2 separate regions of the Homo sapiens genome follow, and region 1 is linked to region 2. Evidence: fine-mapped expression QTL. A gene starts in region 2. The other region holds a variant in brackets. All regions are shown on one strand. Distances are from middle to middle.

Region 1 (8,330 bases), 22 kb after region 2:
AGGAGAGCTGGACCAAACATGCCCTTAGGGAAGGCTCTGGGCCTTTCAGGCAGGGGTTGGGTGGCGCTGCTTCCTGGGATTGATCTCGAATGGTGTCCCCCACATAGTTGCGGAGTAAGCTGGGGCCCCTCGAGATCCAGCAGTTTGCGATGCTGCTGCGGGAGTACCGGCTGGGGCTGCCCATCCAGGACTATTGCACAGGCCTGCTGAAGCTCTACGGAGACCGGCGCAAGTTCCTCCTCCTTGGTGAGCCCCCGCTGTACCCCCAGAGGTCAGCTAGGGCCCCTGCTTGGTCCATGCCATCCCAGTCAGGCACCAGGCTGCAAATGTTTTCTCCTTATCTTTCAGCCTCTGATGAAACCCAGATCATGAGATTCACAGGGCAGATGAGGAGCCCAAAGTGCAGAGTAGGGAAAGGACTTGTCAGAGCTGGGAGACACTGTTGATAAGAAGAACTAAGCAGTGGTGTGGCCATTTCATCCTCACAGCAAAGCTGCGAGAGGGACTGATTCTTCCCATCTTACCCCACACGGAAGCTGAGGCTCAGAAAGGCTAAGGAACATGTCCAAGGTCACACAGCTAGTAAGGAGGGCTAATAATAACAGGAGGAATAATACGAATAAGCTGACATGTGCTTGGCAGTTACCCTGTGCCAAGCATCATCTCATTAAATGCCCCCAGTTCTGAGAAGTAGATACTATTAATGGTCCCCATTTTGCAGGTGAGGAAACTGAGACTCAGAGTTACAAAGTAAAGGACTGAGGTCACATAGCTAGTAAGTAGGAATGGAAATAAAACAAACTGTTTACAGAGTGCTCAGTATGTGCTGAGTACCTTGTTATTTAATCCTCACATCCCTACCCAGAGAACAGGTGCAATTATCTGTTTTACAGGTGAGGAAAATGAGGTTCAACATAATTAATCAATGGGAATATAATGATGGTACTAATAATAACAAAAATAGGCCTGGCGAGGTGGCTCACACCTGTAATCCCAGCACTTTGGGAGGCTGAAGCTGGCGGATCACCTGAGGTCAGGAGTTCAAGACCAGCCTGGCCAACATGAAACCCTGTCTCTACTAAAAATACAAAAATTAGCAGGGCGTGGTGGTGTGCGCCTGTAATCCCAGCTACTTGGGAGGCTGAGGCATGAGAATCTCTTGAACCCGGGAGGCAGAGGCTATAATAATAATAATAAAAGTACAGTAATCTAGTATGTAGTGAGCATTCACTGTGTGCTGAGCGCTGTGTCGTTATTCGCTGGCTCAGACAGTTAAGGACCTTGGGCAAGGCCACACAGCCAGTGAGTGACAGCAGGGATTTGCACCCAGATCTGCAGAGAGGACGCTTCCCCTGTGGAAGGGAAAGGGAACGTGTCCTGGGGACTCACCATGCCCCTCGGCTCGCAGGGATGCGGCCCTTCATCCCGGACCAGGACATCGGCTACTTCGAGGGCTTCCTGGAGGGCGTGGGCATCCGCGAGGGCGGCATCCTCACTGACAGCTTCGGCCGCATCAAGCGCAGCATGAGCTCCACGTCGGCCTCCGCAGTGCGCAGCTACGATGGCGCGGCGCAGCGGCCCGAGGCACAGGCCTTCCACCGGCTGCTGGCTGACATCACGCACGACATCGAGGCGCTGGCCCCCGATGACGACGACGACGACGAGGATGAGCCCCGGGGCTCCAGGGGCGGGAGCGACGCCGCAGAAGACAACTACCTGTAGCCACCGCCCCTGCGGACGGCGTGGCTCAGCAGCCCACCTCTGAGTCTCAGCTTTGCTTCGGGGACCCTATCCCCAGGGCCCCCCCATCACACCTGGCGGGGCCGGGGGGTCTTCACTCCAGGGTCTCGCTCCCTGCCCTTGGGGCCCGGGGCCATGCAGTACCTGGAGTGTCCTGCAGGGGGAAAGCGAAGCCGGGCCCTGAAGTCCGGGGCAGTCACCCGGGGCTCCTGGGCCGCTCTGCCGGGCTGGGGCTGAGCAGCGATCCTGCTTTGTCCCAGAAGTCCAGAGGGATCAGCCCCAGAACACACCCTCCTCCCCGGGACGCCGCAGCTTTCTGGAGGCTGAGGAAGGCATGAAGAGTGGGCTCCACCTGCTGGCCGACTGAGAAAAGAATTTCCAGAACTCGGTCCTATTTTACAGATTGAGAAACTATGGTTCAAGAAGAGAGGACGGGGCTTGAGGGAATCTCCTGATTCTCCTTATATGACCTCAAACTGACCATACTAAACAGTGTAGAAGGTCTTTTTAAGGCTCTAAATGTCAGGGTCTCCCATCCCCTGATGCCTGACTTGTACAGTCAGTGTGGAGTAGACGGTTTCCTCCACCCAGGGTTGACTCAGGGGGATGATCTGGGTCCCATTCTGGTCTTAAGACCCCAAACAAGGGTTTTTTCAGCTCCAGGATCTGGAGCCTCTATCTGGTTAGTGTCGTAACCTCTGTGTGCCTCCCGTTACCCCATCTGTCCAGTGAGCTCAGCCCCCATCCACCTAACAGGGTGGCCACAGGGATTACTGAGGGTTAAGACCTTAGAACTGGGTCTAGCACCCGATAAGAGCTCAATAAATGTTGTTCCTTTCCACATCAAACATTTTATGACTCAGTTTACCTTTCTTGCCTTGTAATAAGCAAAAGATGTCTGGGTGCATCCTACCCCAACTGAAGTGGTGGTGAGCTATTCAGAAGATCCTCAGGGGAGTTCACTGTTTGGGAAGAAGAAACAGTACTTGTTCCCTTGCAGCCTTGTTACAGCCTAGCTCTGTGCTCAAGTCACAAACAAGAAATAGCCAAGACTCCACAGGCAGCTATCTGGGAGTCTGGGGTAGTCAAAGAAATGGGAAGGAAAGGTTGGAGAGGTAGAGAAGTCAGGATAAGGACAGCATTCAGCACAGCCTGAGTAAAGGCTGGAAAGCTAAAAGGGATGAGGCCTGAGAGGAGGCCAGAGACTCACATAGGAGATCCAAAATGTGTTTGTAAAACCTTGCAAAGGCTTCCATGGCCAGACACATTGTACACACCATAAAATAGGCACTGTTAGCAATTTTCAAAAAAATGTTATTAGGACTCCAGGTCCAAAGAGTTCCATAATTCATACTTGGTTTGTGGTAAATGATCATCCCATCATCACTGGTCCATGTAGGGCCCTTCTGATGTTTTATTTTACCCTCTCCTGATCCACATGTTCCCCACACTCCTTTTCCCTCTTTACTATGAGCGCCTAACCCTATGTGCTGATATATGTCCCTGGACCTAAACTACACAGTGCTTTGTGTGTGTGTTTGTATAAATGATATTACATAAGAATTTCACTCTATTCCTTCTCTCACTCTGTAATGTTTTTCTATTTAAAAAGAAAACTAAGAAAATTTTTAGAGACAGGTTTTTGCTCTGTCACCCAGGCTGGACTGCAATGGTGCAGTGACAGCTCACTGCAAGAACTCCTGGGCTTAAGTGATCCTCCTGCCTCGCCCTCCCAAAGTGCTGGGATTAAAGGCATGAACCACCAAGCCCAGCCACCCTATAATGTTTTAAATACCTACATATGTGCTGTTGAAAAATCTCACTGTTGCATCCAACTGCTGCAAAATATTTCGAGTTGAGCATCCGCTGTTTTCTTTATCCATCTCCCCAGAGATGAACACCCAGGTTGCTTCCAACTCCCTCTTACCACAAACAACACTGTGATTGATGAACATTTTTGTACATGAAACTTATGGGCCTATGTGAGCATTTCTTTGGGCTCTAAATCCAAGAGTGGAATTACTAGATCACAGGGCAGGTTTTGAATTTCATTAACTTCTTCCAGAATGGCTTTCACCAACGGTGAGTGAAGGATGCTGTTTCCCGACATCTTCATCAGATTTTTCATCATCTGATTTTGTAACTTTGCATTCAGTGTGGGTGTAAGGTGGCAAGTTGTTTTAATTTGCATTTCTCTGTTAATCCTGAAATTTATAACTTCCTTCTATACTAGTCAGCCATTTGAGCTTTCCTTTCTGTGACTTCCTTGTTCATATCTTTTGTTCATTTCCTACTGGGCTTCCTGTCTTTTTCTCATTGATTTGCAAGAGTAGTTTATAAATTTTAGATATTAATCCCTTTTGGATGTTGATGTTCCAGGTATATTCACCTAATATATTTGCCTTCTGTCAAGTTTATCTGTGACAGTACTCAAACTTCAGCAGGCATCAGAAT[G/C]TCCTGGAAGGCTTGCTAAAACACAGATGTCTGAGCCCCACTCCTAGAGATTCTCCATAAGAGAAGGGGAAGGGCCTGAAAATTTGCTTTTTCTTTTTTGGGGGGACAGAGTCTTGCTCTGTCACCCAGGCTGGTGTGCAGTGACGCAATCTCAGCTCACTGCAACCTCTGTGCCTCAGCCTGCTGAGTAGCTGGGATTACAGGCATGCGCCACCATGCCTGTCTAATTTTTGTATTTTTAGTAGAGATTGGGTTTCACCATGTTGGCCAGGCTGGTCTCAAACTCCTGACCTCAGGTATCTGCCCTCCTCGGCCATCCAAAGTGCTGGGATTACAGGCATGAGCCATCGTGCCTGGCCAATAATTTGCATTTCTAACAAGTACCCAGGTGATGCTGATGGTCCAGGGACCGCTCTGAGAACAACTGATTTGTGATGGCTTCCATTGGGCAAACTTGTTCTATTGAGCAAATTCCTTAATTTTGAGGTTGTCGATTTTATTTATTTTCATTTTCTGGATGAAGGAACTGGAGTTCAAGAGGTGAAGTGAATACCCCAAGGTCACACAGTGAGCTGGGCTTTGGACTCATGTCTGGCTAACCCAGAGCCCATGTCCCTAGCCTCTCTACTGTCCTGTCTCTGAGACTTTGGGATGTAGTGGCCGTAGCCTGAGGCATTCCGACCTGAGGCTACAGGGAGCCTTAGTAAGTTCCTGAGCAAGGCAGCCGGAGAGGGAACAGTTGGTTGGGTAGGGACAGGGGCCAAAGATATAGGAGTCTCTCTTAAAGGCCTTGGGGCTTTCCAAGAAAAGCTCAAAAACTGCCGAAAATCCTAGCCACAGCACAGTGACAGGGCTGCTGAGAGGCACTGGGACAGACAGTTCTTACCCCACAGCTCCAGGGATGGGGTAATTTCCCTCACACCCCAAGGAAGTCCCCACCCGCTCCGGAACTACCCTCTTACCAAAGCCATGTAACCCCTTAGTTCCTGGGGTCCAAAGGGCACTGTCTGGGGCAACCCAGGCACTGAGTCTGGAGACTCTGGCCACACTTCCTCCTGTAGCATCCAGAGACCCTGCCAGGAATTGCTTCCCTTGTTGGTTCAGTTCCTGACATCACAAGAGGGGAAAACCCCCTAGGGGTGGGATAGCTGGTTCCCAAGGACTTCTAGGGGTAGTGCAAGTATGGAACTTCCCCACCAGCTGGATCCCCTGGGGACGGTCTTGGCCCAAACGTGAGTGGTAAAATTGTCTCCAGCTGCCGTAGATGGACGCCTCTCCCAAGGTGGGGCCCTGAAACTTCCTACCCACTCCCCACTTCCACTGGCAGCTCCCAGCAGTCCTTCCCAACTATGTGCTCAGGAGCAGGAGTCCTGGGGCCACTGTCATTCAGCCGCCAAGCATTTAGAGGGCACTTGCTCTGTGCCAGGCATTGCACAAGACACTAGAGGGAGATACAGCACAGTCTGCCCACTGAGGGGCACACTGATGGGGAAAACAGTTCCCAGATAATCATAGCACAAAGTTCTCAATTGTAAAGTCAAAGAGTGAGACACCAGCTCTTTCTGGGGAAGCTGGAAAAGGTTTCACAGGGGAGGTGAGCCATGAGCGAGAGCTTGAAGGACAAGGTTTTTGGTGGGTGAACAATAGAAGAGAGAGCCCTCCAGATGGGGACCCAGCACAAGCAAAGGCAGGGGAGCTTGAAGGAGCATGGCGTGCTCTAGGACTGGCAACCGGTTAGCACTCGTGCAGCACTTAGGCTCCCTGGCCAGAGGGTCGGAGGGTTTTTAATCCGAGCTCTGCCATCTGCTTGTTCGGTGACCTTGGGAAAGCCCCTAAAATGTCCCTGGGTCTTGGTTTCCTCATCTGTAAAGTGGGGTTGATAATAGCCTCACCCTCGTAGATCCCATAGATTGTCATGAGTCTTAAGATATTTCACGTAAAAGTATATGTAGAAAGTGCTCAATTAGTGACCATTGTGATAGCTGGAGGAACACGGAGTGTGTGAGGTGGGGGACGAGGTGGGTGGGTAGGAGTTGCAGGAGAGGAAACCAGAGAAGTGGATAGATTAGAAGCCCTTGAAGGGCAGGCTAGGAAGCATAGGCAATGGGAGGCTATCTAATGTTTGTTGTTGTTATTGTTGTTTTTGTTATCGTTGTTTGAGGCGGGTTCTCACTCTGTCACCCAGCTGGAGTGCAGTGGAACAATCAAAGCTCACTGCAGCCTCCAGCTCCTGGGCTCAAGCCATTCTCAGCCTTCAAAGTAGCAGAATTACAGGTGTGCGCCACCAGGCCTGGCTATTTCTAAATTTTTTTTGTAGAGACGTGCTCTCTTTATGTTGCCCAGGATGGTCTTGAACTCCTGAGCTCAAGGGATCCACCCGCCTGAGCCTCCCAAAGTGCTGAGATTACAGGCGTGAACAAAGGTGCCCCACCTGGGAACAAGCCAGGGGACCTGCATTTTCTTGAAGCGAATCAAGCTGCTGGAGAGGAGGATCAATAGGAAAACAGAGGAGCGTCTGGAAGCAGGGAAGTGGGGAGGAGGCTGGAACCAGGACCACATGAGAGATGGTAAGACCTGACTGAGCTGGGGTAAGAGGAAGGAAGAGGAGAGAGTAGGTTCAAAGAGGAAAGAAGAGAAAGAGAACTCTGCCTACCCCCACCCCCACTCAGAAATAGTAGCCCCTCACATTCTTTGACCAAATTCATTCGTTCATTCATTCATTCATTCCACAACCATTTATTTAGCATTTAAACCCTGGCCTCTTGGAGTTTACATTCTAGGAGTTTATATTACTATTAAATGTTACTAGGAGCTTCCAGATGCAGTAACGACCCAATCAGGTCTAAATGGCCAGAAATTGATGGCCCTCTTGGTGGGTCCTCCCACTTGACTTGTTGCTTATCCTCAGGTATTTCAGAGCAGGGGCAGAGGGGTCTTAAAGCCAGGCCAGCCTGTTCTGCCCACTTCCTACCTTGGGGAGTTCACTGTCTCCTATGGCAGCCCCTTCTATCCAATGCAAGAGCTAACATCCACCTCCTTGTCCCCCCACTCCCTGCCCGCCGTCCCCAGGGCCCCCCACCTGGCTTCTAACATCACCTTTAAGAGCCCTACACGGTATCCCTGATGCCTCAGCCACTGGGCAGCCCTGCAGCAACGTGCAGAAAATGATGCAATCTGCAGAAACTTCTCAACTTCTCATTTATATCTAAAAGCAGACTGTTCTCAAAAAAAATATTTTCAAAGCCTATCATGCAGACAAAGGGGGAGTGCGTTTGATGTGTAAAGACCTACAAGTAAATAAGACCAACAGCCTAATAGAAAAATAGGCAAATTATTTATACAGACAGTTCACAGAAAATACAAACGACTCTAAAACGTGTGACAAGATGTTCAACCTCACTCATAAGATAAATGCAAATTAACACAACACCGAGCAACCATTTTTCAATTAAGAGATTGGCAAAGTTTGGAAAAGTGTGATCACTCACTATGTGGGTGTAGGTGTGAGGAAACAGACACTCTCACACATTCCTGGTGGGAGAGCAAGTTGGTATAAACCCTACTGAGCAATATCTACCAGGATGCAGGAGCCCTTTGATGCAACAATTCCACTGCCAAGAATTTCTCCGGCATTTATACCCACACGAGTGGAAACCAATGTGCAAGGAAAGTCATTGCAGCTTTGTCTCTAATAACAAGAGTTTGGAAATAAACCAAATGTTCAGTGATAGGGGTCTGGTTAAATGAACTGTGGCTCATGCAGGCAATAAAATACCATGCAGCCATAAATAAGAACTAGGTAGCTCTGTGCACCGATACAGAATTATTTCCAAGATAGAGTAAGTGAAAAAAAAAAAAAAAAGCAAAGTACAGAACAATGCACTTTGAATAGTGCTGTATTTTTGTTTAAGGAGGCGGGAAATGTCTTTTAAGTATAGAATAGTTCTGGAAGGTACACAAAACAAGTTATAGTTGTGCTTCTGAGCTGGAGGAGTGTGTGGCTATAGAATAAAGAGGGAAGGAGACTTTCTCTGCATGATGTGTCCTAAATGTTATGTCATGAATATGAATTACAGCAGAGCAATTTTTTCAAAAACCACTATTCCAGTATTGTGGTATTTACTGAACTCTATAGA
Region 2 (8,330 bases):
CATGGCAGGCATTGATAATCAATCCCTTCTTCCTGCTGGGAGTAGATCCGGTTTTTATAATCCTCTACGCAGCCCTCCAGGCAGCCCCTGCCAATCAACTGGAGGTGGTTCAAAAGAGATGAATCCTATCTGCCACAATTGTTAAGTCTTTGAGAGCAGGGACTTTGTTTTGCTCATCTCTTCTTTGATTCACAAGCTAATTTTAATAATATGTTATCATTGTGCACTTCTGTTCCCATTCAATCCCTGCAGCAGCCTTCCAAGGCAGGTACTGCCATTATCCTGCTTTTGACACGTGAGGGCTCTGAGGCGCTAAGAGATGAGGTAATGTGTTCAAGGTCATATACATTTGAGCCTATATCCACCATCTCCAACCACTTCCGCTGACATTTACTAAGCACTTCATCTGTTATGGCTCTGCAGGGAGCACTGCAGGGAATACAGAGATAGTTTTCTAATTTTAGTGGCATGCAAAACACTTATTGTCCTATTTGAGATTCCCAGCAGTTCAGTGATGTTTGGAGCTAGTCCAGGAATAATATAAGCTTCCATTTTATAGACAGGGAAATTGAGGCCCAGAGAGAGGAAAAGGCTTGCAAAAGCCAGTCATGGAGATGCCAGAGCAAGAGACCACATGTCTCATGCCCGGCTGCTGCTCCAAGGGTGGGAATTCTGGGCTGGCTCAAGGGGTTAAGTTGGAGCTTTCACATCCAGAGCAGAGTCAGGAATTGGCTAGCACACCCTGGCCTCTTCCTGTTCGCCTGGCAGGCTGAGTGGAGATCTCACTTCCTGAGCTGGGGGGTGACCCGGCAGGATGCAGGGGAGCAGGAGGGAGTGGCTGTGAGAGCCAGCACTAAGCAACCTGGGCCATTTCCCCTCCAAGGGAGGGGAAGGAAGAGGAAGGGCTAGTGGCTAGGAGTCTCCTGTAGCTCTCACACCCAGAAGCGCGTTGGGGAGCTCTGACCCTCCCTTCAGGGCACTGATCTTGAACACCAGGCTTTCAGAAAAAGCCTTTCAGTAGAATCCAGTGCATTGGTACTTTACAGTTTCTAACTGCTCTTCCATCCATGGCCTGTGTCTTTCTGGCCACAGCTCTGATGAGCAGAGCAGGGCTTTGGGAAATTATTATTCCCATTGGAAAGATAAGAAAGCTGACCGATCTCGTCTGATCTCGGAAGCTAAGCAGGGTCGGGCCTGGTTAGTACTTGGATGGGAGATAAGAAAGCTGACGCCAAGAGAGGTTACAATGAGCAACCTGGACCAGGTCATATACAGCAAATCAGTTCCAGAGCTTAGGTCTCCAGAACCCAGGTGTCTTGGCAAGGTGTGGATGGGCCACACAGAACCTTTCCATCTGTCCTGGGTGGGGCATGCAGAATGCATAGGTCCTAGAGGTAAGGAACGCTAGGCTCAGATCCAGACCAGCCAGAAATCCCAGGTCCTCCTCTTACTCACTGTGTGACCTCCTTGAACCAGGCTCTGAACTTCAGCCTCAGTTTCAAAAATCTGTATAATAGGTACTATCATGGTACTCAACACTGTGAGTAAGTTAAAATATGTAAAGTGTTCAGCACAGAGCCACAAAGGGGACCTTGCCTCCCTAATATACTCCCAAGAGAGCAAAACAGCTCAAGACCCTATGAACATGGTCAGAATAAAAATGGAGTCACTAATGTTAAGAAAACCTTGACAAATAGAGCTGGGGAAGGCCATAGAGGGTTTTCATGCTTGCATAACAAATAAGACTGATAACAAAACAGATAACAACAAGACTGATAACAAAAAAGACTACAAAAATCACAACCTTGCACAAAGGCCATTGAAACCTTGCACAAAAAATACTTCCGCAAGGACATCTGCCCAGCAACTGCCTGTCCAACTTTAGACTGGCATCACCCTTGCTATTGATCTTTGCAATCAAGAATAATTATTTCAGAAACAATAATGTAATCCTTATTTTTTTCCTTTAAAAATCTTTGTCTTCCCCCCACCTCCCTGAAAATGCACATCGCTTACTATGGCATATGGGTAATTCCCACTGCAATGCTTAATTCCTAAGTGAAACATCTTTTATTTTAGAGAGCCTCTGTTTGTTCTTTAATTTGACAACCACTAAGCAGGTAAACAGTTAATGTTTACTGAGCACTTATTTTTTTTCAGTTTTTTTTTTTTTTTTTTTTTTTTTTGAGATGGAGTCTCAGCCAGTCACCAAGGCTGGAGTGTAATGGCTGGATCTCAGCTCACTGCAACCTCCACCACCCAGGTTCAAGCGCTTCTCCTGCCTCAGCCTCCAGAGTAGCTGGGATTACAGGCATGTGCCACCGCACCCGGCTGATTTTTGTATTTTTAGTAGAGACAAGGTTTCACCATGTTGGCGAGGCTGGTCTCGAACTCCTCACCTCAGGTGATCTGCCTGCCTCAGCCTCTCAAAGTGCTGGGATTACAGGTGTGAGCCACCACGCCCAGCCTTACTGAGTACTTAATATGTGCCAGAAGTTCTTCTAGGTGCATTTAATCCCCGCAAGGTCACTATGAGGTTAAACTAGTATTATGCTCATTTTAAAGACGGGAAAACTGAGGCACTGGTGGTTAAGGGACTTCCCAAAGGTCATAACCCTAGTAAGTGCCAAAGCCAGGATTCGAATTCAAGCAGCCTATCTTCAAAGCCCACGCATACTGCCTCCCTTAATAGTAATGATTAATTTTTTAAAATCATAACTTGCTTGGCTACAATACTCTCTATAAGGCACTTTCCATCCACCTTTTCATTTCTCACCACAGCAGCCTAGGGAGGGAGGCAGTGTTGACTCCCAACTTATAGAGAGGAGGGGGAAACAGGCTGTGACAGGGGGAACTGACTTGCCTTGCCAAGGTCACACAACAAGGTCAGTGGCAGAAGTAGGGCTGGAACTTGGAATTTTCCAAACCAGGACTTCAAATGTGGGGGGCCCTTTCCCAGCCTTGGCCAATTCCCAAGCTCCCCCAATAACCCGCCTTCTGGCTAGAGGCCTTGAGCCTCCCTCCTCAGGTCAGCTCTGCCTGGGCTTCCACCCTTCAGCTGCAGGGTCCCAAGGCTGTGTCCTCCACACCCCCTGCCCTCCCCATCAGATGGGAGGGGCAGGAACTCCAGGGCTGGTGGAGTTTCCGACCAGGCAGGAAAAAGAACAAAGGAACTGGATGTGGGGGTGGAAGGGATGGCCAGGAGGGTGGCAGGAGTAGAGGGGACATTTCACCATGGAATATGAAGTCAAGAAAGGGAAGAAGGTAGGTGGGAGGTTGGGAGGGACGAAGGGAGAGGAATGTCCCCAAAGCTGGGGAAGGGGGCAAACTGGGGCGGGGTGGGGGGTCGGTAGCGAGGGGCATAAGTGGAGCCTTTCTTCTCATTTGGAAGTAACTTCCTTCCCACTCTTGGACAGCCAGACAGTCAGGCTCTAAACTCCCTGTTTCTCCACTCTCAGTGGCCTCTGGCATCCCTAACGTGGACAGACAGGGACCTTCTCAGGAAACCTGGCCAGACGGACTCAGTTTGGGAGATTCTCCACACCTGCTTCCCTGGTGTTCCCCGCAGCTCCCTCCTGCAGCCTCTCAGACAGACGGACAGACAGACACCCAGCAGATCCATTCTCCTGCTCGTCACTGCCCCAAACAGAAGGACTCAGCCAGGGCAATTCCGATAGGATGTTGCCTACACAGGCTTGAGTCTCCCACCTGCCCCCTGCCCCTCCCACCTTTCTACAAGGGCGTATGTAAGGCGTCAGCCAGAAGCCATTCCCCTCACCCCTTCTGACTCTGAAGTTTTCTAGTATGCTTCTCTGGGTGTCTCACCTGGTTGTCTTTGGAGTTCAGGGAGGCGCTCTGATTTTAACTTCCATCTTACCCCCATTTCCACCCTCCCCTCTACCCCACCCCCACCAGAAACATATGTCCGGGCTGTTCTAAAAGGTGCCCACATGAATCACAGAGGGCTCAGAAGGGAGCCAAGACATACGTGCATGTTTTCTCTTAGTTTGTTCTTTTAATAGACATTTATTGAGTGCCTATTATGCACCAGGTATTTCTTTTTTTAAAGCAATAAATAAGTTAATGTAAAATTGCATAGAAGGGCCGGGTGCAGTGGCTCACACCTGTAATTCTAGCACTTTGGGAGGCCGAGGCGGGTGGATCACCTGAGGTCAGGGGTTCGAGACCAGCCAGGCCAACATGGCGAAACCCTGTCTCTACTAAAAATACAAAAATTAACTGGGCATGGTGGCACATGCCTGTAATCCCAGCTACTAAGGAGGCTGAAGCTTGAACCTAGGAGGCAGAGGTTGCAGTGAGCCAAGATCGCGCCACTGCACTCCAGCCTGGGTGACAGAGTGAGACTCTGTCTAAAATAAATAAATAAATACATAAATAAAAATTTTTTAAAAATCATAGGAGGTCCCATACTCAGTGCTGGAGGAAACTGATCAGTTTGAGTCGAGAACTGACGGGTGGAAGGAAAGTGGGTAGGGAAGAGTGTTTGAGGCAGAGGAACAGCATGTGCAAAACCCCACAGTGGGAAGTCACATAGCAAGCCAGAGGGACTGAAGGAGGACTGTGTAGTGGGGGCCCAGGGGACAAGAATGAGGCAGATGGGGCTGGACAGGTGGGCAGAGCTGAGCCATTCAGGGCCACCAACAAAAATACTTACCCCTCCCCACCCCTAATACACACACATACGCAAGACAAAGTCCCAGCTCCATAGCCGGCATTCAAGATATGTTCGTCTCATAATCTAGCCACGGCAGACTGACTGCACACAGCTTCTCCAGGCTCACCCTCATCCAGCCTTTGAGGCATCCAGAATTTTGCACATGCTGTGCCCTCTGCTTGGCATGCTTTCTCCCAGATAGTTTCTTCTCATTCCTTAAAGTTGCTACATACCCCATCCTGGCTCCATGATATGGGTTCTAACATAAGCTGAGTACCCATAAGAATCACCTGAGGGCTCATTAAAACACAGATCACTGGGTCTTACCCCCAGTTTCTGGGCCAATAGGCCTGGGATGGGGTTCAAGAAATTGCATTTCTGGCCAGGCACAGTGACTCACGCCTGTAATCGCAACACTTTGGGAGGCTGAGGCAGGAGGATTGCATGAGCCTAGGAGTTCAAGACCAGACTGGGCAACATAGTAAGACCCCATCTCTTTAAAAAATATATATTAGCTAGGTGTGGTGGTGGTGCATGCCTGTGGTCCTAGCTACTGTGAGGCAGAGGTGGGAGGATCGCTGAGTCAGAAAGAATTTGCAATTCTAATAACCCACAGGTTATGCTGATGGCTGTGGGGCCACACTTTGAGAACCACCGGTTTAGATCCTGGCTACTCAAAGCGTGGTGCACAGACCAGTAGTATCAGCACCAGATGGGAGCTTGGTAGAAATGCACAGTCTCAAGCTCCAACCCAACTGTACTGAATCAAAACTCCAGGGCAGATAAAGTTGGAAACTCACTAGTCTAGGTCATTTATCACAAGCCCTGGAGGCAAGGATAGGATCCAGGTCTCCACTGAATCCTCAGCACCCAGCAGAGTCCAGCCATACAGGTGTAAATGTTTACTGAATGAATGAGTAAATGAACAGATGTATTTGTGGACTTGTGTTCTGTTTACCTGGAAAGAACGTGAGCTCCTTGCAGGCAGGGAGGTTGTCTTACTCACATTTGCCTTGTTACACAGTTAAGTAATCACACCACACATTCACTCAGTGGTTTTCAGCTGAGCTGCCTTTTGAAATTACCTAAGAAGGCTTAAAAAAATCTTAATGGACCGAGCTCATTAACCCCAATGGCTCACACCTGTAATCCCAGCACTTTGGGAGGCCAAGGCAGGAGAATCATTTGAGCTCAGGAGTTCAAGCCAGCCCAGGCAACGCAGTGAGACCTCATCTCTACTAAAAATTTAAAAAATTAGCAGGGCATGGTAGCACACACCTGTAGTCCCAATTACTTGGAAGGCTGAGGCAGAGGGATCGCTTGAACCTAAGAGATCAAGGCTGCAGTGAGCTATGATTGTGCCACTGCACTTCAATCTGGGCAACAGAGCAACATCCTATCTCAAAAAAATTAAAAAATAAAAAATTTTATGCCTGGGTCTCAGTCCCAGAATTTCTTATTCAGTTGGTTGGGAGTGTAACCTGAACATCTGAAGTTTTAAAAGCTCCCCCCGTAGTTCGTGTGTGTGTGGAGTGGGGGGGTGGGGGTTGTTTGTTTTGTTCCTTCGACAAGGTCTTACTCTGTCACCCAGGCTGGAGTACGGTGTTGCAATCGCAGCTCACAGCAGCCTCGACCTCCCAGGCTCAGGTGATCCTCCCACCTTGGCCTCCCAAGTAGCTGGGATTACAGGTACATACCACCACACCCGGCTAATTTTTTTTTTTTGGCATATTTTTTGTAGAGACAGTTTCACCATGTTGTCAAGGCTGGTCTCAAACTCCTGGGCTCCAGCTCTCCTCCTGCCTCAGCCTCCCAAAGTGCTAGGATTACAGGCGTAAACCACCACGCCTGGCCTTCCCCAGGTAGTACTAAAGGATAGCCAGGGCTGGGAGCGACTGCTCTAAATGCAGTCTCACACTTGAGCATGTATCAGAAGCACCTGGTGGGCTTGTTAAGCCCTAATTGCTGGGCCCTACTCCCAGAGTTTCTAATTTAGTGGGTCTGGGATGGGGCCTGATAATCTGCATTTCTCTCAGTTCCTAGGTGGTGCTGCTGGTCCAGGAATCTCATGTTGAGAAATGCTGTTCTAGATGGAACTCAAACTTTCTTTTGAGATTCAGATGGCTGGTCTGGGCTGAGCCCCAGAATTTACACCTTTAACCTTGATCCAGGCCATTTTTATGCAGGTGCCTCTGGATTCTACTTAAATGTACTTATTAATAATTTATAACTTTTAGGAAAGCACAGAGAATAGCCTAAGAAATAGCTATGCACCCACCACCACTCCACCACATTGAATCCTAATCTATATTATATATATTTATGTATATGATTTATATATATGTGTGTACATATATATATATATATTTTTTTTTTTTTTTTGAGACAGAGTCTTGTTCTGTTGCCCAGGCTGGAGTGCAATGGCTCCATCTTGGCTCACTGCAACCTCTGCCTCTGCCTCCTGGGTTCAAGTGATTCTCCTGACTCAGCCTCCCGAGTAGCTGGGATTACAGGCTCCTGGCACAACGCCTGACAAATTTTTGTAATTTTAGTAGAGTCAGGGTTTCACCATGTTGGCCAGGCTAGTCTCCAACTCCTGACCTCAAGTGATCCACCCGCCTTGGCCTCCCAAAGTGCTGGGATTACAGGTATGAGCCACCACGCCTGGCCTTGAATCCTAACATTTTTCTGTATTTGCCCCAGCCTAGACTCATTCCTCAAACCTGTTTGGCAGGAGCTACACTGTCACCTGGGTGTTTAGAAAGAAGGTCGTTGGATCCAGAATGCCCAAGGTGAACTACTGGTTCCACCACTACTAGCTGGTGACTTTATCAGTTAGTTCCTCTCTAGGGTTTACTTTCTCCATCTGTAAAATGGGACTTACAGAGGTACCCCTTCTGCAGAGTTTTGGTGAGAATTAAATTAGGTAATGTAAGTAAAAGTGAGCATAGTAAGAGTTCAATAAAAGCAGCCACTGTTATCACTCTCATTCCTCCTCTCCTCCCCAGGGCTTTGTATCCCCCATCCGAAGGCTGGTGTTCCCCAAGGCCGGGCGCCGGGCAGCCTGTAGGAGCAGCGTGAGCCGCCGGCCCCTGCACTCGATGCCCCTTTATCCCCCCGACTACCTCATCGACCCCCAGATTCTGCTGTGTGACTACCTGGAGAAAGAGGTCAAGGTGCGTGCAGGATGAGAAGGGGTGGGAAAACCTTGGGGTGAGGAGACCTTCACTTCTCCTTGACACCAAGTTCTGATCAGCCGTATCTCACACAGGGGAAGTTGTGGCTCATTGGAAAGAGGCCTGGGTTCATGTCAGCCTTGCCCCCACCTTCAGCAAGTGACCTCCATCTGCTGAGCCTCCTCAGTGTTCCCATCTCAACATGAGGCTCAAAACCTACCCCCAGTGGAGAGTGGATGGGAGAGTGTTCTGTGCGTGGAAAAGTCCTATCTTTTGTCAACTGACATAACAGAAAGGGAGACTCACTAAAAGAAAATGATGTTTACTCAGGAATAGGCATTGCAATGGGAATATGCGTGCCATAGTAAACTGTGTATTCAGGAGGTAAAGGAAGGCAAAGGTTTTTAAAGGAAAAGTGAGGAGGATTACATAATTGTTTTGAGATAATTATACCTGGCTGCAAGGATCAATAACAAGGA

The links.
Region 1: its variant is fine-mapped to the expression of CCM2L in whole blood (TOPMed, PIP above 0.99).

The regions. Positions count from the first base shown.
Region 1 is chr20:32,029,593-32,037,922 of GRCh38, forward strand. CCM2L (CCM2 like scaffold protein) reads left to right here. Exons shown (of 10, transcript NM_001365692.1): 9 at 108-246; 10 at 1,409-2,588. The coding sequence ends at 1,722. Among named protein-coding and RNA genes, the nearest start is that of HCK, 18 kb to the right of the region's middle. RefSeq lists enhancers at 1,619-2,146, 5,561-5,740 and a silencer at 1,808-1,857. The variant G/C (reference allele first, on the strand shown) is at 4,195.
Region 2 is chr20:32,007,221-32,015,550 of GRCh38, forward strand. It overlaps CCM2L (CCM2 like scaffold protein), which reads left to right and starts at 3,218. Exons shown (of 10, transcript NM_001365692.1): 1 at 3,218-3,264; 2 at 7,684-7,851. The coding sequence starts at 3,235. It also overlaps the pseudogene RNA5SP481. RefSeq lists enhancers at 3,040-3,567, 4,478-5,069.